Linked DNA regions of Homo sapiens: regions 2, 3 and 4 are each linked to region 1. The links come from fine-mapping of genetic effects on gene expression. A gene starts in region 1. Each other region holds a variant in brackets. All regions are shown on one strand. Distances are between the middles of the regions. Region 1 holds the start of TEX101 (testis expressed 101). Region 2 has its middle 3.9 kb from the start of LINC03078. Region 3 has its middle 17 kb from the start of CD177. Region 4 holds the start of PRG1 (p53-responsive gene 1).

Region 1 (7,824 bases):
GGGTTTCACCATGTTGGCCAGGCTGGTCTCGAACTCCTGATCTCAGGTGATCCACCACCTCGGCCTCCCAAAGTGCTGGGATTACAGGCCTGAGCCACCGTGCCTGGCCCATTAGAAAGTTTTAAACAGGAGTAATGTGGTGTGGCTTGCAATTAAGAGATCGCTCTGGTGCCAGGTGGGAAATAGCCACATGGGCAAGGGCAGGGCGTACTGCAATAATCCAGTGACCAATGGTGGTGTCACAAGTGCTTATATAAAAAGATGCCTTCACTGTATATTAGCCATTGAGCTTTTTTCTTTTTTACAAACGTTCCATGGATTCATAAACTATTTGCCAACCATTGCTCTAGACTAACCTCCTCATTTTCTTTTTTTTCTTTTTTTTCTTTTTTTTTGAGACCAAGACCAAGTTTTGCTCTTGTTGCCCAGGCTGGAGTGCAATGGTGCAGTCTCAGCTCACTGCAACCTCCGCCTCCCAGGTTCAAGTGATTCTCCTGCCTCAGCCTCCCAAGTAGCTGGGATTACAGGCGCGTGCCACCAGGCCTGGCTAATTTTTGTATTTTTAGCAGAGACAGGGTTTCACCGTGTTGGTGAAGGTCAGGCTGGTCTCAAACTCCTGACCTCAGGTGAACCACCCACCTTGGCCTCCCAAAGTGCTGGGATTATGGGCTTGAGCCACTGCACCCAGCCTAACCTCTTCATTTTCTAGATGAGGACACTGAAGCTTGGAGAGGAACAGAAATTGGCTCAGGCTAAGGAAGATCTGTCAATCTCTCTTGCACCAAAAAGGCAAAGCCACCTTTCTCAAGGGGCTGTGTATTGGGGTGTTCTTGCACTGCTATAAAGAAATACCTGAGACTAGAAGTAATTTATAAGAAAAGAGGTTTGATTGGCTCAAGGTTCTGCAGCTGTACAGGAAGCGTGGTGCCAGCATCTCCTTCTGGGGAGGCCTCAGAGAGCTTTTACTTATGGCAAAAGGATGCAGGCCAGAGAAGGGGAGCGAGAGAGAGTAAGAAGGGGAGGTGCCACACACTTAAACAACCAGATCTGGCAAGGACTCACTCATCATTGCAAGGACAGCACCAAGTCATGAAGGATCTGCCCCCATAACCCAAACACCTTCCACCAGGTCGCATCTCCAACACTGGGAATTACATTTCAACATGAGATTTGGGCGGGGGACAAATATCCAAACTATGTCACGGAGCAAGAGGAGGTCCCTGGAGCTGTTGAAGCAGAAATGGGGTGAAGAATAGAGGTGGAGGGTGCTTAGGCTTCCAAGGTCTCTTCTAGGTGTGAGATGGAGGGATTCTGCGACCAAGTCACCTGGAGAGTGACTCAACAAGGTGACTGCTTTCCCAAGCACGAGCCCTCGGGGGACAGACGGGGGCTGAAAACTGGCACACATTCTTCCTGGATCCTTTGACATGTGATCATTCAAAGATAACAGTTCAAAGATAACAAAGGGATTGAAGCTTTACCAATCCCTTTCTTATTGTGGCATTTTCTCTATTAAAAATAAATACTCATTTATACTATAACTTACAGAATCAGTACCAATTCTGAAAGTATACAAAGCGTTGCCTTACTTTAAGGAAGGAGACCACTACTACTCCTGCTGCCCTCCTCCCCCGACCTTGCCTAGTTCACAAGACAGGAGGAAAGAGAGAAAGCAAAAAGTTGGAAAGAAACAGAAGTAAGATAAATAGCCAGTCAACCTTGGCACCACCACCCAGCCCTAGGAGTTAAAAAAAGTAATAATAATAACAGCAACCCCTGACCTAAACTACTTGTGTTATCTGTAAGTTCCAGACATTATATGAAAAAGCATTGCAAAACTTTCTGTTCTGTTACCTGATGCATGTAGCCCCCAGTCACGTTTCCCACGCTTGCTCGATTTATCACGACCCTTTCATGTGGACCCCTCGAAGTTGTAAGCCTTTAAAAAGGCCAAGAATTGGCCAGGCGTGGTGGCTCATGCCTGTAATCCCAGCACTTTGGGGGGCGGGCGGATCACGAGGTCAGGAGATCGAGACCATCCTGGCTAACACAGTGAAACCCCATCTCTACTAAAAATACAAAAAAATTAGCCGGGTGTGGTGGTGGGTGACTGTAGTCCCAGCTACTCGGGAGGCGGAGGCAGGAGAATGGCATGAAGTCGGGAGGCAGAGCTTGCAGTGAGCCGAGATTGCACCACTGCACTCCAGCCTGGGCAACAGAGGGAGACTCCAAAAAAAAAAAAAAAGGCCAAGAATTTATTTTTCAGGGAGCTCGGCTCTTAAGACGCAAGTCTGCTGAGGCTCCCGGCCAAATAAACCTCTTCCTTCTTTAATCCAGTATCTGAGGAGTTTTGTCTGCAGCTCATCCTGCTACAACTTCATGTCACACCTGGAAAGCTTACATAGGCCAGGGGTGGTGGCTCACGTCTGTAATCCCAGTACTCTGGGAGGCCGAGGTGGGCAGATCACCTGAGGTTAGGAGTTCAAGACCAGCCTGGTCAACACGGCGAAACCCCGTCTCTACTAAAAATACAAAAATTAGCCAGGTGTGGTGGCAGGTGCCTGTAATCCTAGCTGCTCAGGGGAGACTGAGGCATGAGAATCGCTTGAACCTGGGAGAGGGAGGTTGCAGTGAGCTGAGATCACGTCACTGCACTCCAGCCTGGGGGATAGAGAGAGGCTCTGTCTCCAAAAAAAAAATACAAAAAATTAGCCAGGCATGGTAGCTTATGCCTGTAATCCCAGCTACCTGGGAGGCTGTGGTAGGAGAATCACTTGAACCCAGGAGGAGGAGGTTGCAGGGAGCCAAGATTGTGCCATTGCACTCCAGCCTGGGCAAAAAGAGCAAAAGTCTGTCAAAAAGGGAAGGGAAGGGGAGGGGAAGGGAGGGGAGGGGAGGGAAGGGAAGGTTACATAGATGTGAAAGTGAACTGCCAGCCATGAGCAACAAATCCGAGTGACATGTCTTCTTCATGGTCCTGACACGGACGCGTGGGTTCGATCTGACAGCAGCCTGTGCCATCATAGCTACTGCTCATGCATGCATTCGGGGTGCCCAAAGTGATGCTGAGGGGGGCATTCCTAGATTCAACCCTCCAGGAGACCATGAGGAGGCTGGTGCGATAGCGCAATCAGATGAAGACGCCTGGGCTGCACAGGGGCCACTGCAAGTGAAGACTCAAGAGGCCAAGCTGACTCCCAGAGGCTAGGGCCACTAAGGTGGGTGCCGAGGCAGGGGCCAGGCTGGGAACATGAGAGGCCATTTGGGTAGGGAGATAAGTTCCGTGAGTGAGGGCCAAGGGTCTGACCTCCTAGTGTGGCTGGAGAAGCAGAGACAACAGAGTGCAAAAAGAGAAATGGGCCAGGCGAGGCCATCTGGCAACGCACTGCCCACCCTCCATTGCGTGCCTCTGGCTGCAAAAACAGGCAGGATCTTCCGGCCGGTTTGCCCGCCACTCACCTTCCGAGCATGCGCACCCTCCGAGATTGCCAGGAATTGACTTCTCTGTGGCCAATGAGGTGCCGCGTTCCTCCAGGCTCATCCAATGAACTTATCCGATGCTTTTGCATCCACCAATGGGGTTTCGAGTGCTGTGTGGCCAGGCTGGCCCGGCCTTGCGTCGTAAGAGAATGCCAAGCCCGGGGAGAAGGCGTTCCGGGCCTCAACTTTGGCGTCGTGAGATTCTTGTGAGGCGTCTGCCTGGAAGCCGGCAGCAATTTTGCTTCTTTAAAGAGAAAAAGAAGGCTAGGGACTCAGATTCCTGGATTCTGAGGAAAGAGAAGGCTGGGGACCCAGATCCTGGCTCTGAGGGGAACGAGGGTTGGGGGCCTGGGCTCCCGGGCCTGAGAGGGAGGGGACCAGAATGGTGTGTCCCGCAGGAAAAGGTGGTTGGAACCCAGACTCCTCGATCCCTACATAGGACGGGGCTGGGCTCTCAGAATCCCGGGTTCTGATGAGGCTGGGGCTGGGGCTGGGGGCCGAGATTCTGGGTCCCTGAGAGAATGTAAGGGACCCCTGAGACTGAGGGAGAAGCGGCCTTCAGGGCCACACTCCTGATCCTGAAGTTGGAGGGCACTGGGTGGCCGGGCCTGAGAATTAAAACCATGAAAAACTGGGGCGTGATAAACCTGTGAACTCGCTCCAGCTCACAAGCCGGTTAGGGACAGAACGACTTTAGAAGTCGTGGTCATATACACCATAAACCCCACTGTGAGGCCGGGCATCAGGGCTCACTCCTGGAATCCCAGCACTATGGGGGGACGAGGCGGGCAGATCACCTGAGATCAGGAGTTCGAGACCAGCCTGACCAACATGGTGAAACGTCATCTCTACTAAAAATACAAAAAATTCACTGGGTGTGGTGGCGGGCACCTGTAATCCCGGCTACTCGGGAGGCTGAGGCAGGAGAATTGCTTGAACCTGATAGGCAGAGGCAGTGAGCCGAGATTGCGCCACTGCACTCCAGCCTGGGCGACAGTGCAAGACTCCGTCTCAAAAAAAAAAAAAATGCAGATTAAAACACCCCACCCTGAAGTCAGTACTTGCCAGGACCTAGATTTGATCTCATGCACTCTGGCTGAAAAGTTAATTGCCTTCTCTCCATCAAATTCACAGATCCAGACCAGCTCCTCCCAGACCTCTCCAGAAGAAGCCATGGGAACCCCTCGTATCCAGCATTTGCTGATCCTCCTGGTCCTAGGAGCCTCCCTCCTGACCTGTGCGTATGGGGGACATAGGGGAGAGCCGTGTGTCACAGAAGGTGGACTGATGATGAAAAGGGAGCCGCCTTGGCCCATGGAGAAGTGCTTATCCTTTTCTTGTTTTCTCCTCAGCGGGCCTAGAGCTGTATTGTCAAAAGGGTCTGTCCATGACTGTGGAAGCAGATCCAGCCAATATGTTTAACTGGACCACAGAGGAAGTGGAGACTTGTGACAAAGGGGCACTTTGCCAGGAAACCATACTAATAATTAAAGCAGGTGAAATGAGATGGGGCATTTGGGCTGGGTAGGAGGGAGGTTGATTATCTCCATGCCAATGCTTGTTCCCTTCGTCCAGGCCAATTGTGACGGCCACCATCCATTTCCCCTCCTTCCTGTCTCATAACAGGGACTGAGACAGCCATTTTGGCCACGAAGGGCTGCATCCCGGAAGGGGAGGAGGCCATAACAATTGTCCAGCACTCTTCACCTCCCGGCCTGATCGTGACCTCCTACAGTAACTACTGTGAGGATTCCTTCTGTAATGACAAAGACAGCCTGTCTCAGTTTTGGGAGTTCAGTGAGACCACAGGTACCCTGGAAGTGGGGGAGATAGGTACTAAGAGAAACTCCATAAAGAGCTTGTGTATGGCCTCCCTTTGCATTCTGACTTGGCTTAGCCTAAGTGGTCCATACCCCAAAGTACCTCACAGTTCAAGTAATTTTATGTTTCTGAATTGTTCATTGGGATCTAAACACTGCTCAGAGCAGCGAGATACCAGTGAAGCCTGGAGTGTAAACTGGGTTTTGTGTTTATTAAGCAATAAGACAGGCTGGGTGAGGTGGATCGCCTGAGGTCAGGGGTTTGGGACCAGCTTGGCCAACATGGTGAAAACCTGTCTCTACTAAAAATACAAAAATTAGCTTAGCCTGGTGGCGCACACCTGTAATCCCAGATACTCGGGAAGCTGAGGCAGGAGAATTGCTTGAACCCAGGAGGCAGAGGTTGCAGTGAGCCAATATCACACCACTGCACTTCAGCCTGGGACAGAGAGCAAGACTCCATCAAAAAAAAAAAAAAAAAAAGCAATAAGACATCAGTGTAGGTTTCCGAACAGGGTGGTATTATCAGTCTAACAAGTATTGGTTTCCCACTGCTGCACGAGAACGGCCCAGTTCCCCAATTTACAAGGCCTGTAGTAACTTGGCCCTTCCTGTCTTTTCAGCTTCATTTCCCTCTCTTCCCTCTCTCATTTACTGTGTGCTAACTGGGGCTAATACTCAAAATGCTTAACAATGTAGATGGCACTGGCCAATCAAAATGGATTCTGGCCATAAAAAACAAAAACAAAAACAAAAAAAACAGATCAAAGAAACAGCTGGGCCTACAAGCTGAATATGAGTCGTGCAACTTCTCACAATTCCCTGAATCCACCAAGCTGGCTCACACCACCTGACCTTTGTCCTTGCTGTTTCCTTTACTACCCTCCCCACCCCATTTTCACATAGCTAACCCCTGTTCATCCTCCATGTCAATTCAGGTATCAGCTCTTTGAAAATATTTGCCAAATTCTTTTAGGTAGTTGGGTATTCCTCCATTCCTTTGTCATTATACCTTGAACACAGCAGCTACTGAATTGATTACTTACATGTCTTTCTCCTAGGCAGAGATGCCAGGTGACAGGAACTATGTCCTTTTCATCTCTGTATCTTCACACCTCAGCAGAGTTTGGAAGTCAGATCGATGGAGATTTCACAGCAGAGAACACCAGCTGGGGAAGGATGGGGAGGCTGAAGTAATGGGCCTTGATTAGAGTGGCATCTGCAGGAAAATCTTGGGGAAGAGAAGGCAGCAAGGAGCAACATCTCTGGAGGCAGGACCTGCCCTTAACTGTCTCTCTCATTTCCCTCCAGCTTCCACTGTGTCAACAACCCTCCATTGTCCAACCTGTGTGGCTTTGGGGACCTGTTTCAGTGCTCCTTCTCTTCCCTGTCCCAATGGTACAACTCGATGCTATCAAGGAAAACTTGAGATCACTGGAGGTAAACTGAAATGAACATCTGATAGTTTCAGAGGCTGGAAAACCATTTGAGTGGCTCCCCAGAGATTCTGACACTGAGCTCTCCAGGGATGAGGGGGGACTGGATTCTCCTCTGATGTCCTAAAACATCTCTGTCTCTCCCGATCCTTCCTTGTTCTATAGGTGGCATTGAGTCGTCTGTGGAGGTCAAAGGCTGTACAGCCATGATTGGCTGCAGGCTGATGTCTGGAATCTTAGCAGTAGGACCCATGTTTGTGAGGGAAGCGTGCCCACATCAGCTGCTCACTCAACCTCGAAAGACTGAAAATGGGGCCACCTGTCTTCCCATTCCTGTTTGGGGGTTACAGCTACTGCTGCCATTGCTGCTGCCATCATTTATTCACTTTTCCTAAGAAGGCACTTCTGGGCCTGGGTCTGAGGACATCTTTTTTGACTGGGAGCCTTCTTACTGTTGAGGTTCAACAAGCTGAGGAGTAGATGGGAATTTGAGGGAGAATACAGAGATACTATGAACGTATTTGACATTTTTAATACAATTTCTGCTATAATTTTTGTATGCAGTAGGCGTTACTAATAAACATTTCTGCTGTGATTTGTGTATGTTTCAACACTAGAAGTGGAATTTTAGTGCTGAAAGAGCCTTTAAAATTCATCTTCTCCAAACCACACATTCTCCAGAAAGAGAATCTGAGATCTGGAAAATTTCAGTGAGTTTCTTACATTTAGCTATGGCCAGAGCCAAGGCAAGAACTTACATATTTTGACGTAAAGTCTGATTTTCCTTTCACTCTAATATGCTAGCTCTCCTTGCTAGCAGAAGTAACTAGCATTAGCCTCCTCCAGAACACTCCCAGCCCAATCTTAAGGCTGCTGTTTTGGGGTTCTAAAATTTCCCTAGGAAGTATGGCCAAATGAGAAAAATCAGACTCCAAATTCTCCAGTTATGGGCCTGCTGTAGTGGCTTATACCTGTAATCCCAGCACTTTGAGAGGCAGAGGTGGGAGGATTGCATGAGCCAAGGAGTTTGAGACCAGCCTGGGCAACCTAATGAGACTACATCTCTACAAAAAAAAATAATCCAAAAA
Region 2 (7,824 bases), 80 kb before region 1:
CAGGAGCACTTCCTAGGGCCAGGGGCAGGGGCGGGACTCTGCCCAGGATGCTTCTCTGTCCCCTCCCCTCTCAGTCCTGCCTTCTGGTTCCTGCTTCCCCTTCCCTTCTGTGTGTGTTTGGTCCTTAGGACCTGCTGAGGCCATTTGCCTTCTTCAGATATGGCTCTCCTTCCACACTTGTCCACACACACACACATATACACACACAGAGACACACACAGAGACACACACAGAGATGCACACACACATACACACAGACATGACACAAACACAGACACACATATATACAGACATACAGGCAAACACATATACACATATATACAGACATAGAGGCAAACACTCACATATACAGACACACACACATATATACTCAGATTCATTGAAACTGAGACACATGTACACATACAGATACACAGAGCTGTCACAGGACAAACTAGCACAGATAAAGACTTCAAGTGGCTTTATTTGCCGTCCTAAAATCGGGCGAGACTTCATCCCATGAGACAATACGTGGGTCAAGGAGCTGAGCAGAAGCGCGGGTTTAATAGAGAGGGGAGGGCTGCGGAAAGCAAACACAAAAAACAGGGCCACTCGGGAAAGGCTCATGGAACAAGGGAGAAATCTCTGATGGGGGAGAATCAGGTTCCTGTTTTAGAAACGGTGAGAGCAGAGGGGAGGTCATTGTCATGCGATTGAAACTGGCCTGTTTGGGAAATCGGCTATTATCTTTCGAAGGTCAGGTAGCAGCTCAGTTTTCCTTTGGTGACCTGTGACATTGGGGAAGGACTGCATTGTGCTGTTGGTCTGGTCTGTTGGGGCCTGGAGCAGGAGCTCAGCCACTGCCATGGCCTCCTCTGACTGCTGTTTAGCAAAGCTCTCAGGTGGGGCTGATGGCGCTGTCCTGGGGAGGCCCTTTCAGTAGCAAGGCTGGTGCAACCCTGTCCCCTGGGAGGATGACCCGCCCTCCCCAGGGCTGACCTCTGCTATCTCCTGGCCTCAGGTCTGTCAGCTCCACACACAGAACCCTGGGGATCCAAACCTGGGGAATTCTTTCTTTGTGATGCAGAAACCCAGCTGGCCAGGTCTCCCCATGCTCTTTAGTGCTTGGGAAGGTGGGATGATGCCCAGCAGGAAGGTGACAGAGGTGGCTCTGGGGGATAGAAAGGAGCTCACTGGGGGATGACTGGGGAGGGACCAGCCCTCTGTCTCCAGTGTCACCAGCCTGGCCTCTGACCCAAAGAGACCCAGGCTGGACTCAGGTGGAGCTCCAGCTCCAGGGTGTGGAGGAAGTTGTCCTGTGTGTCCTGGGTAGAGAGGACTGTGGTGGAGGGAGGTGGGTGGCTCTGAGCCCTGCTGTCCTTGGGGAAGGCTTCATGGAGACCCTCCCTTTCTGTGTCTGTTGGCTGAGCTGTGGCTCAGGGCCTGTCCATGTTCTCCCTATGTTCACCCCTTAACCTTGCAGGTGGTTGGGGGGGCGAGAGAGATAGAAAGACTGTGTCTGTCTGTGTGTGTGTGTGTGTGTGTGTGTGTGTGTGTGTGTGTCCTGTGGCTACCACACCTTCCCCATGGGTGATGCCAGGAGGAAGTGGGGAGCTGCACAAAAACCCTTGGCAGAGCAGGCACCATGAAGGAGCAGGCACATGGCAGGGACCAGAAGGGTCATTTGGGGCAAGGGCTGGAAACCAGGCTCCACCTCTACCTCCTTAGCAAAGCCAGGTTCCTGTCCAGGGGAATCCATTTCCTGAGTGTTATCTGTGTGTGATGTCGCCCCCTGGAGGGCAAGAGGAGACTTGTGGCCTTGTCAGGGGCTGCCCCAGGGACACTGACCAGGGTCTGCATGGTATGAGCTGGCCCTGACCCCTGGGCAGAAGTGGGATCTGACCTCCAGACTGCAGGGTCAGGTCACCCCAGGTCCTGTTCACTGCAGGTCCCCAGGCTGCCCAACTCCATGCAGTGCAAGATGAGCCCAGGGAGAGGACAGGAGTTATCCAGAGAACAGCAGGTCGAGATTCAAGAGAACTGTCCACCAGGAGGATGGGCTGCCTTAGAAGGAGCCACCTGTCCCCAAGGTTTCAAAGGAAGGGCTCAGGGAGGTATCTCTGGGGGCTTTAGAGAGAGGATGCCAGCCTGGGAGGTAGGTGGTCCCCAGAATGCCCTGTGTTCCTCCATCACAGCACTGGGGGTGCTGCCTCCAGGTCAACTGTGTCCCTGTCTGATGCCCACTGTCACTGCTGTTACTCAATATTGTACTGGAGGCATTGGCCAATGAAATTGGGGTACAGATACGAATAGAGATATAAGACTTAGAAAGAGGGAGAATAAGCTATACCAATTCACAACCAATATGTGATTATATATCTAGGAAATTCCAGACATAGTGAAAAACTAATCAATGCAAGAATTTAATAGAAAGATGTAAAGTTAACATAAGGAGGTTAATAACTTTTATACACAGAAACAATACTCAGATAGAAGGTGTAATATAAGACCTCTTTTATTATGACAATATAAAGATAAAACACCTGGGCATACCCTTAACAAGAAATTTGTAAAACCTATACGAGAAAACTCTTAAAACACTCCTAAAGGACACAAAATTCATCTTCAAAAGATGAAGAGACACATTTAGTTTCTTTTCGATCACTTTATTATGAAAATGTTCAAGCACACAAACAAATTGAAAAAGTTGTACAGCCAACACTTACATACTCATCATGTAGATTCTGTAATTGTTAATATTTTGTAGTATTTGCTTGATTAAATATTCTTACATCCATGAAAATAAATCCATCCTATTTTTTCATGTATGTCAGAGTGAGTTGCGGATCTCAGTACCCTTAGGCCCTAAATACCCCAGCACTAACGTCATTAACTAGAGTTTAATATTTGTTTCTATCTTAGGTGAAATTTACATAAAGTAAAATGCACAAAGTTGTAGTGTACCTTTTGATGAGTTTTGACAAATAAGTGCATACACCCATGCAACCCCTTCCAAGACACACACAGTTCCTGTTGCCCCAGTGAGTTCCTTCCCAGCCAATCCTCATGCCCAGTCCCACCTCCAGAGGCAACCATCGTGCTGAGTTTTCATCATAAATTAATGTTGTCTGTAGAAGAATTCCATATAAATAGAATCATACAATGTGTACGTTTTCCTGTGGGTTAAATTTTCTTTTGCTCAGCAAAATGTTTTTGAGAATGAAGTATTTTGTTGCCTCTATCAGTAGTTTATTACTTTTTTTTTTTTTGAGACAGAGTCTCGCTCTGTCGCCTAGGCTGGAGTGCAGTGGCATGATCTCTGCTCACTGCAAGCTCCGCCTCCCGGGTTCATGCCATTCTCCTGCCTCAGCCTCCCAAGTAGCTGGGACCACAAGCGCCCGCCACCACACCTGGATAAATTTTTTTTTTTAAATATTTTTAGTAGAGATGGGATTTCACCTTGTTAGCCAGGATGGTCTCAATCTCCTGACCTCGTGATCCACCCGCCTCGGCCTGCCAAAGTGCTGGGATTACAGGCATGAGCCACCGGGCCCGGCCTTGTTTATTACTTTTTATAGCAACATAATATTCAGCAGTGTGAATATACCACATCTGGCTTATTCATCCTCCTATTGATGGGTATTTTGTTTTAATATTTCCTCAGTTTTGGACCATTATTATTATGAATAAATCTGCTTTTAAAAATAACTTTGTGTATGTTTTGGATGGGCACAGTAGCTCATGCCTGTAATCCCAGCACTTTGGGAGGCCAAGGAGGCACTGATCCCTTAAGGCCAAGAGTTCAAGACCAGCCTGGGAGACATGATGAAATCTCATCTCTACAAAATAATAATAATAAAACAAAATAACATCTTTGTATGTGTCTTGTTATGATCACATGTTTCATTCATTTTGGGTAAAATACCTAGGAATGAAATTGCTGGGTTATGGAGTAGGTATATGTTTACTTGTATAAGAAAGGGACAGACTTTTCCCAAAGTGGTTGCATCATTTTACATTCTCAACAACAGTATATGAGAGTTCTGGTTGCTCCATATATCCTCATCAACATTTGGGGTCTTGTCTTTCTACTTTCAGGAATTTGGTTGGTGGGTTGCAACATTTGATTGTGATTTTAATTTGCATTTCCCTGATGACTGATGATGTTGAGTAGTTTTTTTCTGTGCATATTAGCTATTCGTATATCTTATTTTGTGAAGTTTCTGTGAAAATCTTTTAGTCATTATTGCATTCAGAACAAAGGATTAAAAAAATGCATCGCTTGAACCCCCGAGGCAGAGTTTGCAGTGAGCCAAGATCGTGCCACTGCACTCCAGCCTGGGCGACAGAGTGAGACTCCATCTCAAAAAACAAAAACAAACAAACAAACAAAAAAAAGCATGTGGAACTTTAGCATGAGTTGACTTCACTT[T/C]GGGCATGCTGTCTTTAGCAGTCACAAAAAAATGAATAGGCGGGTGAACTATTGTAGAATGTAAGAGATATAATAACCAAATATAAGGCATAAGTCTTGATTGGATTCCAGTTTTAAAAATACACATGGATAGCCAGGCGTGGTGGCACACACCTATAGTCCCAGCTACTCTAAAGACTGAGGCAGGAAGATCAGTTGAGCCTGGGAGGTGGAGGTTGCAGTAAGCTGAGATCCTGTCACTGCACTCCAGCCTGGATGACAGAACAAGATTCTGTCTCAAAATAAATTAAATAAATAAATACAGATGGAAAAATCATTTTGGAGACCAAAGGGGAAGACTGAAAAAGGACTATATATTAGATAGGGTTAGGGAGTTATTGTTTATTTTCTCAGGTGTGATCATGGGATTGTGGGCCAGTCACTCTGGGGAGAGGCACGCTAAAGCACTCAAGGACATAGTGTCACTCAAGGACACAGTGCCTTGATGCCTGCAATTTACTCTGACACAGTTCAGAAAAAAACGAGGAAATATGGCAAAATGTTAAACTTGAATATAAGGAGAGGATGCGGGTATTCTTGGTATTATTTTTTCCGCTTTTCTGGATGTTTGAAATTTTCATAATAAAAAGTTGAAAACAAAGGATGATGTGTAAGAAAGTAACTTGGTGGCATCAGAGGTCATGGATGGTGGCATTGGTGCAAAGACATCAAGGATGGGAAGGGTCTAGTTATACAAAGAGTAGATGAAAGACACCCCAGGCACAGGAACAGCAAGTGCAAAGGCCCTGAGGTAGGAACTAGCCAGCATCACATTGTCAGCCCTGCGAGTGACCTTCCTAGAAAGCAGACCCTTCAGGCCCAGTAAAGCTGCAGATGACTGCACCCTGACTGGCTTCTTTACTCCAACCTCATGAGACTCACCAAGTCACAATCACCCAGCTTCATAATAAAAAGCTGAAAACAAACACTCTTCAATTCCTGCCCCACAGAATTTGAGAGGTAACAAATATCTGTTGCTGTTTTAAGCCCTGAAGCCCTGGGGTAATTTGCTAGGCAACAATGGATAACTAATGCAGCTTCTGTCACATCTTCTAGGAAACTTCTTAACCTGCTCTCTCAGTACAAAATCCCCTTTCTCCATTTGGTTCCATGTAAACCTCTGTTCATCCTTCAAAATTCACCTAAAGGAGTGTTTCCCAAAATAGGGTTCAGGTGTCAGTGGCTGAGGGCATGTGAGATGATTCTAAGGGGTTACACACGACAGTTGTTAAAAAGCGTTACAGGCTATGCTTGTGATTAAGCGCCTATTAGAGAAAAATAATTGAAAATAGCATATTAATCACATGATTGGATAAACATTATTGTTTTAAGATGAGGCCAAAGAAAAACAGTGAGTTGCTTTAAGGAAAATTTTTGAGTAAATAGCAGTGCAAGTGCTATTCAGATCGTAAAAGTGGAACACGACTAAAATTTGGAAGCGCAGTGAGGAATAGCAGGAATTCCTCTAGGAAACCTTCCCTGCCGCTCCAGGTGGGCCAGTTTGCCCCTCATTCAGACCCCTAAATACCTAAATATCTCTCCACTTGGCGCTGGTGGAATGTGTCAGGATCCCATCTCTGGCTGATGGAAGTCTGTGAGGAGGCTGTGGGCTCTGCATCTGACCTGAGCTCCAAGTCTGCAGGGCAGGCCCTGGGGAAGGGGAGATGGATGGAAAGTGGGGAGTAAGGACAAGCCAGGAGCCCACACAAGGTGGAAGGTTTCGGGACCCACAGAACCTGCCTCTATTCTTGCTGCCTCATCTTGGTGGTGCAGGGGACCTGCAGGAGTGACCTTTGTCACAGAGGTCAACGCACACCTGGCTCAGGAGGTGGAGAAACTGAAGGAGGATTGGGGTAAAGGTGGAGCAGTTTCAGGTCCTGCTGCTGCTCCAGGCTGACCAGCCGAGCTAGCAGATGAGCAACACCTGGACCTGAGCCACGGAAGCTCCTGCCTGGATTTCCCCAGCATGAAATGCACAACGGCGGCTGCTTTGGGCAGGTGTGTCCCGCTCCCACCCTAACAGGAACCTACAGGGAAGAGAGTTCTGAGAGGTGTCGTTCAGCCTAGCCACAGTCATTGTCACCACACCCTCTTATGGGCCTGAGCACCCTTTTCTGTCTGCCCTTCCTGGGAATGAGAAGTCCCTGAGAGCGGGGATGGGTCTCATTCATTTTGGGGTCTTAGTATCATTCAGCATAGGGCTTGGCACAGAGCAGGAGCTCAGGGAGTGCACAGTGAATTAATGAATGATTCTTAAAGAGCCCCTACATTTAAGTAAGAAATCCATCCATTGAATAAGAAATCCATCCATCACAGGTTCTTCCTGTGTCCACCTGGGTGGGGAAAGATGGACTCATCAGTGGCCTGAAAGGGATCAAGTTAAGTCACCCCAAAATGTACCACGTTGGTATAAGGATTGTTTTGAGCTGAAGGCCATTGAGAATCAACAGATGCTGGAAGAGCACTGCCCTCTCCTTATCTACCTAGAAGCAGGGCATATATTTCCTTTTGGGAAGGTGTTTCCTCCCCAGACCATTAAGAAAAGCAACTCATCCTGGAGATGGCGAGTCCACACTGAGATGAGTATGCATAGACCGACCTCACTAACAGAACCTGCATCTCCATCAGTGCCCCAGGTATTTCCGGGTCACTGTCCCATGATGTATCACCCTTTGAAGAACAAGCCCCTTTCCTTTGTTAAAATGGTATATAAGCCCCACAAGTCTAGCCGTTTCATTTTTTCTTTTCTGTGAACTCCCATGCATGTAATAAAAATTCTCTGCCCTTTCTGTTGTTAATTGGTCTTTTGTTAGTTTAATTCACAGGCCTCCAGATACTGAACCTAAGTGGATAGAGGAAAAGCATTCCCTCCCTGAAAGGCAGTTTTCCAGACTAACAAACAAATGTCATAAGTATGTACATCTTCCAGAAAACGGAGTTGTCTAGTTACATAGTATGCCCTGGGCAATGGATTAATACATGTAACTTAGGCAATTCATCTGAATTTCAGATTTTTGAAGGCTAAGAGCTACCTTCACAGGACCAAGTGATGGTCTCTGGAGTCTGGGTGTTTTACAGAGCTCCATTGATAGAAATAATCTTTGCAAGAACATTGTAGGATGATGAATAGGATCTGCTTATATCTCAAGTTGTCTGGGAAGCGGGGACATTTGCTCCTTCTTATCTTGCTGGGATTTCTGTCACCAGCAGTTGGAAGGGACTCCAGTTTTAAGACAAAGGTTTACAGTTTCTTTGGCACCAAGAGCAAAAGAAGCATAAAACTAGGCAGAAAGGGGTATAATATTATCATGTTGAGAAAAGGAATATGGAAAATGTAACCTTTTGCATCTCCTGAGTTAATGAATCTATACTCT
Region 3 (7,824 bases), 44 kb before region 1:
AAAATATAATCTTTTGAATCTTCTGAGTTAATTAATCTGTACTCTGAGATGGGCAGAAATGAGAACCACGTCCCCATCTCTGCAATAAATTCCCTAGGTTTGGATTTTAGCCAAGAAGTTTCTGCTTTCCTGGAGAATGTCTCTGAATTTAAACACCACACCTCAAAGCCAGAAAAGGGAAAGTTTACTTTGGGCTTTGATCCAAGTTTTCAGTGGCTGGAAACACGGTTACACTCCTGGAGACAAGGTGGCCTTGGACACCCAGGAAGAGCCCTGCTCCTGGGCACACCTGGCCCTGGAGCCAGACCACCTGGGTTTGAACCCCAGCTCCGCACCTTACCAGCAGAGCTTCCTCTCTGGAAAGTGGAGATGATCGTGATATCACTGACCTCAGACTGTGGTTGTCTCAATTAAATTAACAATCCATGTTATGAGTGTACAAGTATCGGGCACAGAGCATCGACTCAATTAATACTGATCTGTAATGAATGGGGATTCATGCCAAGTGCTGATGATGTGCATGACATTAGTGCTGACTGCTGTAAGTACTGGAAGCCGTCATGATAATGAACAGTGACTCTCATCACAGTTCATGGGGTCCTTTGTGAAACATGAGGGGGCATTAAGCAGAAACAGCCAGCCCAGCCCTCTCCACCACCCTTGAGGTGGTGTATCTATGCCTGGTTTACAGTGTGGAAACTGAGGCTCAGAGACGGGGACTGGATTGTGCACGGTCACCCAGTCACGAAGGCCAGGAAATGATGGATGGGATGCAGGCTGTGCGCTCAGCCACCTCCCCGTGGAGCAGTTCAGGGGCACTGGGCATCGGGTCGCCCTGAAGATGCTGCTCTTGTCTGTCTGCCTCTCTCTTTCCACCGCACTGGGTCTCTGTTTCTGGCTCTGTCTCCTCCTCACTGTGTGTCTTTGGCTCACTTTGTGTCTTTTCATCTCTGTGTCTCCCTGTCTCTCTCTGTCTTTGTCTCCCTCTCACTTGGTCCCTTCCTTCCTTTCTTCCTTCCTTCCTTCCTTCCTTCTTTCTTTCTTTCTTTCTTTCCTTTTTCTTTCTTATTATAACACCATTGATTTTTAATCAAGGATCCACAAGCTTGGGTCCTCTCTTGTCTCACCCTAGTCCTGCCCTGTGTCTCTCTACGGCACACCTTTTACTTCTCTGGCTCTGACTCTCTGAGTTCTCCCTCTGTCCATGCCTCTCCCCTCCCTCCATCTCTCTGTGTTAGTGTCTCTGTACCCTTTCCTCTCTGCCTCTCTCTGTATCTCCCCTCTCCACCCCCATATATCTCTGACTCTGTCTCTCTCTGGGTCTTTATCATTTTCTCTTTCTCTCTCCATCCCTGCCCCCATTCTCTCTCTGCCTTTCTCGATCTCTCTGTTTCTCACCCTCCTTCTGCCTTCCCCTAAGCCAGGGACTTCATGGCTCTGATGGCTGTCCAGCGGTGTTGCCCATTTTTATTGAAGTATCCTTCTGTCGACCCACTTGGAAAGACTTCCAAGATACACTGCACAGTGAGAAAAACAAGAAGCAGAACAGTGCACAGTGTGCCACCTCTGGCATTACAAAGGAGGAAATGTAAAATGAATTTATAAATGGCCAATAAGCAAATAAAATTTGGTCAACATCACTTATCATTAGGAAAATGGAAATCAAAACCACAGTGAGATACCACCTTACATCTGTTCTGATGGCAGTTCTGAAAAAAAAAAAAAAAAAAAAAACAAAGTGTTGGCGAGGAGAAATTGGAATGCTTGTGCAGTGTTTGTGGGTATATAATATGGCACAACCACTGTGGTCATTTCTCAAAAAATTAATCATAGACTTACCACACGATGCAGCAATTCTACTTCTGGTGTATTCTGAAAAGAACTGAGAGCAGGGGCCCCAGCAGGTATCTGCATGTCTTTGTTCATAGCAGCATTATTCACACTAGCCAAAGGTGTAAACAAGCCAAATGATATGGCTTTCCTCTGTCCGAACACAAATCTCACGTTCAGCTGTAATTCCCAAAGGTCGAAAATAGCCTCCTTGTCCCAGCCACCTGACCTCCCTCTGTAATGAGATGCCGTTCCCCCGACTGCAAGTGACTCAGGCTCCCATGGCACCTGTCCTCCTGCCCCTCCCTCTACCACATCTGTGAGCTCCTGGGAAGCCCTGTGACCTCATACAGAGGAGGAAAGTGCAGACCAGGCTTATGGATGGGTCCTCACGGTGAGCTGGCGCCCAGCAGAAGTGGACGGCGGCTGCCTTAGTGCCCACTTCAGGTGGTCCTGAGGAGTGATGAAGGGAAATCCTTCAGATGGGCAGAACCTCAGGGGTTCTGCAAGGAGGGATGGACTTGGGTCCATTGCATGAACCCAGAGCGGGCCACATGGTCAAGGACTTGAAGAGAATAAAAGAGTAAACTTAAGACAGGGAGGACACATGGATGTTCCTCTGGGGATGGGCACAAAGTGTGAGCTATGCCGTCCCCACCCTTAAGCCCAGAACCTGTGCTGTGGGGATGAGGTTCTTGGTGTTTGGTGGATGGTGTCAGGCAGACTCTGTCCCTCAGAGCTTGTTCAGGGGGTCCAGGTGCAGATGGCCACATGGATAGGGAGGACGGCGACGTACCTTACCACAAGTGGACTGAGTCTCCCAGCACTGGCCTGGCTGCACACTGTACCCAGCCCTGCCCAGTGTAGGCAGAGCCCGGGGCTAAGCCCCTGGAAGGCGTCATTTTACAGGAGGACTACCCGGCCACTGCAGATAGGCTGGCCACACAGGACACGTCCCATCCTGGAGGGGACTGGGCTTTGTCCTCACACGGATACGCACACACTGGGGGTTCCAGTTGGCCTTCCCTGGACCCTGCTCAGTGCTTCTGTGAACAGCGCCTTTCCTGTGGCTCTGGAACCCATGCAGGGTTGCTTCCACTGGGGACACGTGTTAACGCAAAGAATGGGGGGTAATTAACTCACACCCATGGAACCCACTGACCGTCTCAGGTGCCCCTCTATACAGACACAGCTGCTTCTCAGATTGGCGCAATGGCTCATGTGTGGCTTATCAGGGCACCGGGAGGGAGACCGTACCCCACCACCCACAGGAGGGGCCACACATCTTATAAACCAGCAACCAGGCTATCGGGTCACGCGCCCCAGGGCCAGATGCAAAGATCCAGGAAAGACAGGAAGAATAAGCGCGGCTCCCTCCCGTGACTGCACCTGCCAGCCCACTGAGAGAATG[C/T]TTGCTCTTTGTCCCCGTGGCCCTGGGCTGCTGTGGATGAGGAATCTCTTCCTAGTTCTGATCTGCAGGAAGCCATGACAGCCCTCCAGCCATCCTGTGCCCCTTGTGCTGCCAAAACAGCAGGCAAAGGAGACGTCACTCTGCAGTCGGGGGAATGGCATCTGATTACAGAGGGAGGTCGGGTGGCTGGGACAAGGAGGCTATTTTCGAAGGCAGGCAACTCATGGCGGTAACATTTCCTTGGCCAGGGCCCTGTTCCATGGAAAACTATAGAAACCCACTAAAGACAAGGCCATCCAAGACTCACTCTCCATAAGAATCAAGATTTGGGTTACACTGCAGGTAACAAATAACATCCAAAGGAGGTTTTGGAGGTGGGAGGACAATGTGGAATGTACTGGAAGAAAGCAGCTCTGAGCACCAGCAGCCCCGCCCCCAGGACCTCAGCAGCTGTATTGGAAGCCATCTCTTCCCCATCTTCCTCTCATTGTGGGCGAAGAACTGGTGCACAGCACAATGGGAGGAGGACATCACTGTCACCATCACACACTGTTACTGTGACAGAGGGAAGGACTGGAATTGTGTGTCGTCTGTACGGAGGACTCTGATTATTTTTTCCCCCTTGAGACAGGGTCTCGCTCTGTCCCCCAGGCTGGAGTGCAGTGGTGCAGTCTTGGCTCACTGCAGCCTTGACCTTCTGGACTCAGCCTTCTCAGTAGCTGGGACCACAGGCGTGCACCACCACACCCGGCTAATTTTTTGTTGTCTTAGTGGAGACTGGATTTCACGGTATTAGCCAGGATGGTCTCAATCTCCTGACCTCATGATCTGCCCGCCTCGGCCTCCCAAAGTACTGGGACTACAGACAGGCACGCACCACCACACCCGGCTAATTTTTTGTATTTTTTGTAGAGAAGCAGTTTCACTATGTTGCCCAGGCTGGTCTCAAACTCCTGGGCTCGAGTGATCCTCCCACCTCAGCTTCCCAAAGTGCTGGCATTACAGGCGTGAGCCACCGAGCCTGTCCTGGACTCTGATTTTCATCTGGACAAAGGGAAAGGGTGGATGCCGAGGGGCAAGGGAGTGAACGGTGCTAGACGTGTTCTGTTTCCTTCTCCAGATTCACTCTCTTCTCCTCTTCCCTTTCCTCTCCTCTGTTCTCTACTGTGAATGGCAGATCTATGGGGGCTGGACCAGTGGAGTCTCCTGCTTCTGTGGCCTCTAGGGGGTTCAGTCAATGGGGAACCTCAACTGGAGACCAGAGTGAGGACATCAGTTTGGAATTTTAGTTCCCCACTTCCCTCCCCAGTATCATTGCGGGCTGGACGCGTTTTTCAGCCTGAGATGGGAGCTCTTGTTAGGCAACCCTCTCTGAATATCTCTCTCTTTCTGTCTCCGGCTCTCTCTCCAGCTCTCTCTGTCTCTTTCTGTCTATGTCTCTCTCTCTCTCTCTCTCTCTGTCTGCAGATTCCAGCAGTGGCTCTTCTCCTCACCCTTTTTGGGCTATGGTGGTAAGAGATACCCAATGGTAACAGCTCTGGGAAAATGCTAACCCATTTTTTTCTGGAGTTCTCTTTAGCCCTTATGTCAATTATCCCACAATAGGCAGATGCTACATAGCAACGTTTGGGTCAGTGACGAATTGCGTATAGAACGGTGGTCTCCTGAGATGACAATAGTGTATTTATGCTGTACCTTTTCTATGTTTAGATGTGTATAGATGCACAAATACTTGCCGTGGTGTTACGATGCCTGCAGTATTCACACCATAACATGCACTGCAGGCTTGTAGCCTAGGAGCAGTCAACTCTACCATCCATCCTGGGTGTGTATTGGGCTGTACCATCTGGGTTGGTGTAAGTGCACTCTACAATGTTCCTTTCGTGATAAAATCACCTAACGACACATTTCTAACGACACGTCCCTGTCGTAAAGCAATGCATGACTATACTAACCTCTCCTGCAGTCGCTCAGATGGGGCCAGCCCCCTGTTTGTGCTAGGGCCCTGGCTGCTAGGCTGGAAGCCTCATACATCTCAGTGCATCTTCCCCTCCCAGGTCATGGTGATGCCCAAATACGTTTGGCTGGAGCACCCTGAAGTCTCTGCTACCATCCAAGCTGGTTTGGAGACATGAACCAGACCAATGAAGGGCAGGCTTTGGATGGCCATTTTCTCATTAGGTTCCTCTCCTCCACCATGCTAGATCCCTGGGCGTCCTGCTGTCCCCTTACATGGAGAAATCCCAGCACTGGGAGAAAGCACAGGGTCTTTATTATCAGACACATGCAGCCACTCCTCCAGTGTCCCCTCTCCCACAGGGCAAGTCCGGCTGCTCCAGGCTCTCCCCAGTGTTGCTATTAGGTGAGTAGATATGAATGATTATGTGTGGGGAAGATGATTCATGGACAGGATGGGGAAATAATCTGGTGTCCAAGGCCATTAGGTTACAAGCACAAGGGACGGTTGAGTGTGGTGGTGAGCAGCGGTGAAGAATCGTGGGGGAAATGGAGTTAGCAGGAAGGGCAAACCGCTCCCCACCACAGCGCTGGGGCCAGTGCCAGCCCCACCCCCCAAGTGAGACACTCCAGGCCCCCAGCCCCACCTCCCTCATGCTGAGAGGCAGGAGGCGGCTCATCACCCTTCTCACACACAGAGAAGATCCCAATTTGTCTGGTGTGGTTCAACAAGGAGCTGGAAGGTTGGGCCACACAGCCCTGAATGCTCATTCTGGTGGTCAGCCCACCTAGAGGGAGAAGACCAAGTCAGAAAGGACACAGAGTACAGCCCAGCCAAATTCATAAACCCAGGAGTCCAGGCCCCAGACCCTCCTCCCTCAAACGCAGGAGCTCAGACCCCCAGCCCCTCCTACCTCAGACCCAGGAGTCCAGGCCCCCAGCCCCTTCTCCCTCAGTCCCAGGAGCCCAGGACACCAGCGCCTTCATCCTTGGGGCCCTGCTTGCAGCACTCACCTCCTGAGAGATGAATGTACCCATCATAACAATGAGTGGCGCCCCTGGGGCAGGTCATTCGGGGGGAGCCACTTGAACAGGTTCCAAGGGGCTGCACACAGGTAGGACACTGCCGGTCTCCTGGGACAGGGGCAGCTGGGGAGCAGAGGGAAGGTGGGGGTACATGACTTTGTGCTCAGAGCAGCTGCCCACCTTGGGCCAGAGTCTCTGTGTGTCTGGGCCTCATTTCTCCACGGCCCTGGATCCCATACCTTGAGGAGGGAGGGAGTTCAGCAGAACGCTGCTGCTGCTGGCACTATTGCACAGGTCCGAGGAGCAGAAGTGGGTATAGGAGGCCACAAGCACCCCAGGAGGGGCTGAGTGGATGGTGGTCTTCTGGGAATTTTGAGCCCCAACAGCGCTGCAGCTTTAGGTCGCCACCAGGGTTGATGTGAGTCCTGAGGGTGAGAGGGAAAGCTGGGCTGGGGACTGGGCAGCTCCCAGGGCAGCAGGGGCTCCAGAGCTGGACTCCCTGCCCTTCACAATACCCCCCAGGCAGAGGGTGAATGCCCTGATCACAACTGCTGGGTCATGTTTAGTGTGGGGCAAAGACGGAGGCTGGGGCCTGGGTCCTGCCCGAAGCTCTGCCTCCTCCCAGTTCTCGCTCAAACGTCACCTTCTCCATGAGTCTCCCCTGAGCACTGAGCTTAAAATTGCAGCCTTCCCCTCACTTTTCCTATCTCCTTTTCCTTGCCAGATTTCTCTCCAGAGCTGGGATCTCCATTCCCCATACTTTGCTGCTTTTTGTTTGTTTGTTTCCTGTTTCTCAAGGCATATAAAGCTGCAGGAATACAGATGGGATTGGATCTGCGGCACCTAAAACAAATGCTGGATAAACATTTCCAGAATGTATGAAGCCACTGAGAGTCCTCGGTGTTGGCACGGTTCTCCACCCTGGGCAGGGATTACCGCATACGTGGTCACCCCTCCCCAGAAAGGCAGACACTGTCATTCCCACTGCTTCACCCCCAGTTTTCATAAGGGGAACCCAAGATGCAGAGAGAAGAAGAGTCGGATTGAAAATTGCAGATGTGAAGGGAGCTGAGCAGGAAATTCAGGGGAAAGAATCCAGTGGGGTGGAGGGAGCTGCCAGGGACTTGGGACAGGTGTTCGTCTTCTACCTCAGTCCACGTACCTACATCTATGAGCAGCAGCATCTCCTGACACACCTGCCCCACCTCGCACGTCTCGGTATTAGATGTGGCCCAATCAGTGGGTTCTTTACTCAAGTTTTCCTGCTTCTTCAAGGTGGTCCCCCGATGACAGGTCAGAACATCTGGGGAGAGGAAACCCAGGGTCTGTGTAAGCCAGGAACCCACCATGTCTGTCCCTCCACGTCCTGGGCTAGGGAAGGTGATCATGCTCTTGAGTCACACTCCAGGTGACCTGGCCACGGAGTCCCTCAACCACGGATTCAGAAGGGACTTGGGAGTCCAAACCCCACCCCCATTGTTCCCTGTTTCTGCTTGAACACCCGCAGGGACGTCCTCTCACAGCCCTGTGAGAACAGCCATTCCTTGCTTCAGCTGTGAGAGCAATGGAAGCTCTTCCTGAGCCTCTGCCCATCTCTGCTT
Region 4 (6,271 bases), 63 kb before region 1:
AATGTCAGCCTCATGTTGTAATCCTTTTATTCATTTTTGCTCCTCTGGTCAGTACACGAAGGCCTGTAAAGATCCTTTCTTTTATTTTTGAGATGGAGTCTCACTCTGTCGCCCAGGCTGGAGTGCAATGGCACAATCTCAGCTCACTGCAACCTCCGCCCCCTGGGTTCAAGCCATTCTCCTGCCCCAGCCAAGTAGCTGGGATTACAGGCACATGCCATCATGCCCAGCTAATTTTTGTATTTTTAGTAGAGACAGGGTTTCACCATGTTGGCCAGGCTGGTCTCGAACTCCTGACCTCAGGTGATCCACCCACCTCTGCCTCCCAAAGTGCTGGGATTACAGGCATGAGACACCACACCCAGCCAGGCCTATGAAAATCTTTAAGTGTAACTTTTCATTAAGTGCCATAGATCCCTCCTCTTTATAACATAAAGTCCTGTAAACTGCATGCAGGTCAGTTTGCCATAGGAATAATTTGTCTTTGCTGGAACATGCTGGGTGCTTGGCAGATGAAGAGATTGGAAGTGAACCACTGAGATGACTGATGAGCGTCCTCAGCAGGCTGTGTTGCAGGGGGAAGAGTGCAGGTTGTTTATAAGGCCTGGGTCGTGCCCCTGGCCACCATTTCCTGGCTTTGTGACTCCAGCTTTACTTCTCCTTCCCAGGGCTCAGTTTTCCTCTCCTTGAAGGGGATGAGTGGAACCAGCTCTGGACGCTGAGCTGCCTGGGTGTAAAGGCTTCCTGTAATGGGCAGAAGAGTGGATAGGAGGGCAGCAGGGGAGCTGGACCAAAAGCATCATGTGATTTGCCGTGATCACAGAGGATTTTCTGGAAGTAGCTTGGGCACAATGTGTGCAAGGAGACAGAAGGGTCTCGTGGTGGGGAATAGGACATTCACACAGCCTCCTCCATGGCTTACCTCACACAGCAGTTGTTAATTAGCCAAGAATTTGACAAACAGGCATTAAAGGCCTTCTGAATGTGACACACGACACCCAGCTAGAAGAATATTGCCAAAAATCATTAAAACTACTCTAATCATAGTCTGAGTCAGACACATCCAGGTGGTGGAAGACTTTACAAAAAAAAAAGAAGTGAACCATTGCTTTCAATGACATTAAAGAAAATGAAAGGCAGGTGGGGAGCACTCCTAGATTAAAGGGGAGTCCAGAGATGAGATGTAAACCAAAAGGTATCTGAGACAGGTCTCCATCAACTTAGAAGCTTATTTTGCCAAGGTTAAGGACATAGAAAAAACCATGCAATCATAGAAACAGTCTGTGGTCTGTGCCTTTTTCCAAAGATAATTTTGAGGACTTCAATATTTAGGGTGGAAAAGCTGGCTGGCGGTGAAAGAAGGAGGGTGTGGTCGCATTACTGAATCCACATGGTGTAAGAGAAAGCAGGAGGTAGGGGAATAATCAATCACGTATTCATCTCACGCTCAGTAAATTGGCACCTTGAGAAAGATAAGGTGAATATGGCCGGGCGTGGTGGCTCACACCTGTAATCCCAGCACTTTGAAAGGCTGAGGTGGGAGGATCTCATGAGCCCAGGAACTTGAGACCAGCATGGACAACATGGCAAAACCCATCTCTACAAAAAAAACCACAAAAATTAGCTGGGCGCGGTGGTGGGTGCCTGTAGTCCCAGCTACACGGGAGGCTGAGGTGACAGAATGACTTGAGCCCGGGAGACAGAGGTCGCAGTGAGCCAAGATCGTGCCACTGCGCCCCAGCTTGGGAGACAAAGTATGATACTCTCTCAAAAAAAAATAAATAAGTAAAAATTTTTTTAAAGAAAGATAAGATGAACATAGAGTAGCTACCTACGGAGATACTTAACCTTTTCTCTGTAGCTGTCTGCTTAGGAACAAAAGGAAAGGCAGTTTCTTGCATGACTCAGCTTCCAGTTTTTTTTTTTTCCTTCTGTCACAGTGAATTGGGGTCCTGAGTTTTTGTTTCTCTTTCATAAAGACAACGCAGTGCAGTTCATGCTTGACCCCGGATGTTCTCCTGATCAGAAAGCAAAAACGCAATGAGAGATGTCATTGGGACAACAGAGGAAAACTGGAAATGGGCTTCCTATTAGACAACAGTGCATCTGTGTAAACTACACGGGTCTGATCCTGGTCTGTGGTTACGCAGGACAAAGTCCTTAAGAATAATCTATATAGGCTGGGCGTGGTGGCTCACACCTGTAATCCTAGCACTTTGGGAGGCCGAGGCAGGTGGATCACCTGAGGTCAAGAGCTCAGGACCAGCCTGGTCAACATGGTGAAACCCTGTCTCTACTATAAATACAAAAATTAGCCGGACGTGGTGGCAGGCGCCTGTAATCCCAGCTACTCGGGAGGCTGGGACAGGAGAATTGCTTGAACCTGGAGGGCGGAGGTTGCAGTGAGCAGAGATCACGACACTTCACTCCAGCTTGGGTGAGAGAGCAAAACTGCATCTAAAAAAAAAGAGAGAGAGAGGAAAAAAAAGAATGATATATGCTTTTTAAAAATTT[T/A]TTTATTTATTTATTTTTTGTGATGGAGCCTGGCTCTGTCACCCAGGCTGGAGTGCAGTGGTGTGATCTCGGCTCACTGCTGCAACCTCCACCACCAGCTTCAAGTGATTCTCCTGCCTCAGCCTCCCAAGTAGCTGGGATTACAGTTGTGTGTCACCATGTCCAGCTAATTTTTATATTTTTAGTAGAGATGGGGTTTCACCATGTTGGCCAGGCTGGTCTTGAACTCCTGACTTAAAGTGATCCTTCCAAAGTGCTGGGATTACAGGTGTGAGTCACTGTGCCCAGCCCCCTTAAGAATAATCTTAAGAAGGTTCTTGCTGAAGCACTTAGTGGTGAGAGTTACAATGTCTACTCCTTGTTTTTAAAATTTAAGAATATTTTAAAAGCATATGTTGTGTGTGTATAAACAGATACAATAAAATGTGAAGAGTGGGTGAATCCAGTGAAGGGGATACTTGTGTTCACTGTACTATCCTTGCAACTTTTCTGCCGGTTTGAAATTTTTCCGTCTTTTTTTTTGAGATGGAGTCTTACTCTGTTGCCCAGGCTGGAGTGCAGTGGTGCGATCTCGGCTCACTGCAACCTCTGCCTCTTGGGTTCAAGCGATTCTCCTGTCTCAGTCTCCGGAGTAGCTGGGACTACAGGTGGCTGCCACTACACCGGGCTAATTTTTGTATTTTTTTTTTAAGTAGAGATGGGGTTTCACCGTGTTGTCCAGGTTGGTTTCAATCTCCTGACTTCAATAGATCCACCCGCCTTGGCTTCCCAAAGTGCTAGGATGACTGGTATGAGTCACCGCTCCCAGCCTGAAATTTTTCAAAATGAAAACACCGCAGGTCAGGAGTTTGAGACCAGCCTGAACAACATAGTGAAACCCTGTCTCTATTGAAAATACAAAAATTAACCAGACATGGTGGTGTGCACCTGTAGTCCCAGTTACTCGGGAGGCTGAGGTGGGAGAGTTGCTTGAGTCCAGGAGATGGAGGCTGTAGTGACCTGCAGTGAGCTACAACTGCACCACTGTACTCCAGCATAGGTGAGAGCAAGACTCTGTTTCTAAAAAAAAAAAAAAATTACTGGGCATGTACTGTATGCCATGTAGGTGGTGGAGACATAGCAGGAGATCAGACAAACACTTCCCTGTCTGTGTGGCAAATATTAAACTTGCAATAAACTTGCAAAGACAAATAAAGATAAAATTTATAGAGATGTCAAAAATAAACATATAATTGCAAGTCACATTCATTTCTCTTTCTCTGCTATTCCTGCTCTCGCCTTCCCTCTTCTGCTTCTCCTCTCTCCGTCACAGACACCCACAACGTCCCTCTGCAGTCACTGACAGATACCCCAGGTTCCTTCCTGTCTTCCTCCCCGCCACCCCAGTGTGTTACAGCTGATTTGTACAGCCCTGGACAAGCCCATGGTTAAATAGCTAGGGATTTCATCAGCCTGGTTGGCAAACTGTAGGTAGCTTAAAATCAGACATGCTATGAGTATTTACACCAGAGAAATAGGCCAACACTACGAGGCAGGATTTGTGGGTATTGTTTTTCAGAAAACTTGGTTTTTCAGCACAACACTGCTCTCCCATCGGCTTCCAGCAAATAAATGTTGCATTTTTCAGATATATCCTAATTCTTTCATAGATATTCAGTCTCTACTCCACCTCTGGCCAAGCCTTTCCTGGTGGTAGGAAACTGGGGACTTGAGTCCTATGTTGTACTGTGAGGGTAGAGAATAGAAGAGAAAGCATGAGAGAAAAGCATGAAAAGAAGAATCAAAAGAAAGCAATATAAGAAGGAAAGAGAAAGAACAGAGAAGTGGGAAGACAGTGGAGGGTAGAAACTAGGACCGGAAGACATGGGGACAAGCTGATGCCCACTGCACAACGTCCTCACAGGTAGTTGGGCCATTTCCCCATCTGGGGTACAGAGGTGGCCAGGGAGCCCATGAGAAATGAGGAAACTGCCTTCCCAAACTACTGGAGAAAGAGGGTGGGGGTGGTGATCCACATAGCTGGGCTCAGGAGGAAAGAGGGCTGGGAGTCTGGACCGGGGGAACCTCGGGTCAAGATGCCACAGTTTCTAACTATGGAGGGCCTGGGGGCCTGGACTCCTGGGTCTGAGGGAGGAGGGCCTGGGGGTCTGGACTCCTGGGTCGGAGGGAGGAGGGCCTCGGGGCCTGGACTCCTGGGTCTGAGAGAGGGAGGCCTGGGGCCTGGACTCCTGGGTCTGAGGGAGGAGGGGCTGGGGGGCTGGACTCCTGGGTCTGAGGGAGGAGGCACTGGGGGCCTGGACTCCTGGGTCTGAGGGAGGAGGGACTGGGGGCCTGGACTCCTGGGTCTGAGGGCGGAGGGGCTGGGGGTCTGGACTCCTGGGTCTGAAGGAGGAGGGGCTGAGGGGCTGGGGGTCCTGGACCCTCCATCTGAGGGAGGAGGGGCTGGATGCCTGGACCCGAAGGTCTGAGGAAGAAAGGGGGTCCCTGATAGGCCACTGCGGCCATTGAGACTTGGGGTGGGGCCCAAGCCTCCATTTTGCAAGGCCCTCCCCTCCCCACCCTTTTCTGGGCTGGCTGCTTAAGGGCTGGTATAAAGGACTTGTTTCCTGCTGAAAAAGCAGAAAGAGATTACCAGCCACAGACGGGTCATGAGCGCGGTATTACTGCTGGCCCTCCTGGGGTTCATCCTCCCACTGCCAGGTGAGTGATGAGCCCAGCCTGGAGGAGATTCCCTGGAGGCCGGGCAAGGGAACCCTGCTGAGATGGATTTGCTCTTGCCACTCCAGGAGTGCAGGCGCTGCTCTGCCAGTTTGGGACAGTTCAGCATGTGTGGAAGGTGTCCGACCTGCCCCGGCAATGGACCCCTAAGAACACCAGCTGCGACAGCGGCTTGGGGTGCCAGGACACGTTGATGCTCATTGAGAGCGGTGAGAAGGCCCTGGCGTGCAGAGACCCCGCCCTGTCCCCTCAGTCCCTTGATCCCTGTGCAGGGACCCGGGAGCCACCCCTCCGGGGGATCGACTCCTAGGGTCCCGGTGATCCCCTTTCCAGCCTCTCAGCCTACGCCGTGTAGCAGCGTCTCCCTCCAGGACCCTGGAGGCCTGACCTCCATCCTCGCTTGCCTCCCTCTTTCGGTCCAGGACCCCAAGTGAGCCTGGTGCTCTCCAAGGGCTGCACGGAGGCCAAGGACCAGGAGCCCCGCGTCACTGAGCACCGGATGGGCCCCGGCCTCTCCCTGATCTCCTACACCTTCGTGTGCCGCCAGGAGGACTTCTGCAACAACCTCGTTAACTCCCTCCCGCTTTGGGCCCCACAGCCCCCAGCAGGTGCCTGCGGGAGGGTCGGGAGGAGAGGGAGGGGCTGCTAGAAGGGGATCCGCTGAGCACAGAGGGGCTGTTACGGAGTCCCTCCCACCCTCGCTCGCTATCCCGACCCTCGCTGGCTCCATCCCTCCCCTGACTGCTCCCTGACCATCGCCCCGCCCCGCTCCCTTTCCATCCCTCCCCACTCACTCCCGATCCCTCCCACCGACCTGCCACCCGGGAATCCCCGCACCCCTCCTCTTCTAAGAGCAAACAGGACGGATTTCTGATATGAAATCACCATTAACTGGGTTATCCTGCATTCTTTTTTTATTCTGTTGCGTTTGGTTCAAGAAGTTCTCCTGCAGGGTTTTTGCTATTTCCTCTTCCTAAGGGAGACTGAACTGTAACTTTCCACTTTCCTTGTCTGGTGTTATAAAGAGTCTAGGGAGATA

Evidence for each region. PIP is the estimated chance that this variant, and not a neighbour inherited with it, causes the effect.
Region 2: its variant is fine-mapped to the expression of TEX101 in whole blood (INTERVAL, PIP above 0.99).
Region 3: its variant is fine-mapped to the expression of TEX101 in whole blood (INTERVAL, PIP 0.97).
Region 4: its variant is fine-mapped to the expression of TEX101 in whole blood (TOPMed, PIP above 0.99).

What each region holds. Positions count from the first base shown.
Region 1 is chr19:43,411,267-43,419,090 of GRCh38, forward strand. TEX101 (testis expressed 101) reads left to right here and starts at 3,624. Exons shown (of 6, transcript NM_001130011.3): 1 at 3,624-3,772; 2 at 4,615-4,717; 3 at 4,833-4,976; 4 at 5,107-5,289; 5 at 6,612-6,740; 6 at 6,902-7,331. The coding sequence starts at 4,654. The coding sequence ends at 7,131. RefSeq lists a silencer at 1,825-2,011.
Region 2 is chr19:43,331,525-43,339,348 of GRCh38, forward strand. No RefSeq gene overlaps it. Among named protein-coding and RNA genes, the nearest start is that of LINC03078, 3.9 kb to the left of the region's middle. The variant T/C (reference allele first, on the strand shown) is at 4,412.
Region 3 is chr19:43,366,990-43,374,813 of GRCh38, forward strand. It overlaps the pseudogene CD177P1. Among named protein-coding and RNA genes, the nearest start is that of CD177, 17 kb to the left of the region's middle. The variant C/T (reference allele first, on the strand shown) is at 3,242.
Region 4 is chr19:43,348,553-43,354,823 of GRCh38, forward strand. It overlaps PRG1 (p53-responsive gene 1), which reads left to right and starts at 504. Exons shown (of 1, transcript NR_026881.1): 1 at 504-996. It overlaps CD177 (CD177 molecule), which reads left to right and starts at 5,134. Exons shown (of 9, transcript NM_020406.4): 1 at 5,134-5,214; 2 at 5,301-5,441; 3 at 5,655-5,840. The coding sequence starts at 5,163. The variant T/A (reference allele first, on the strand shown) is at 2,515.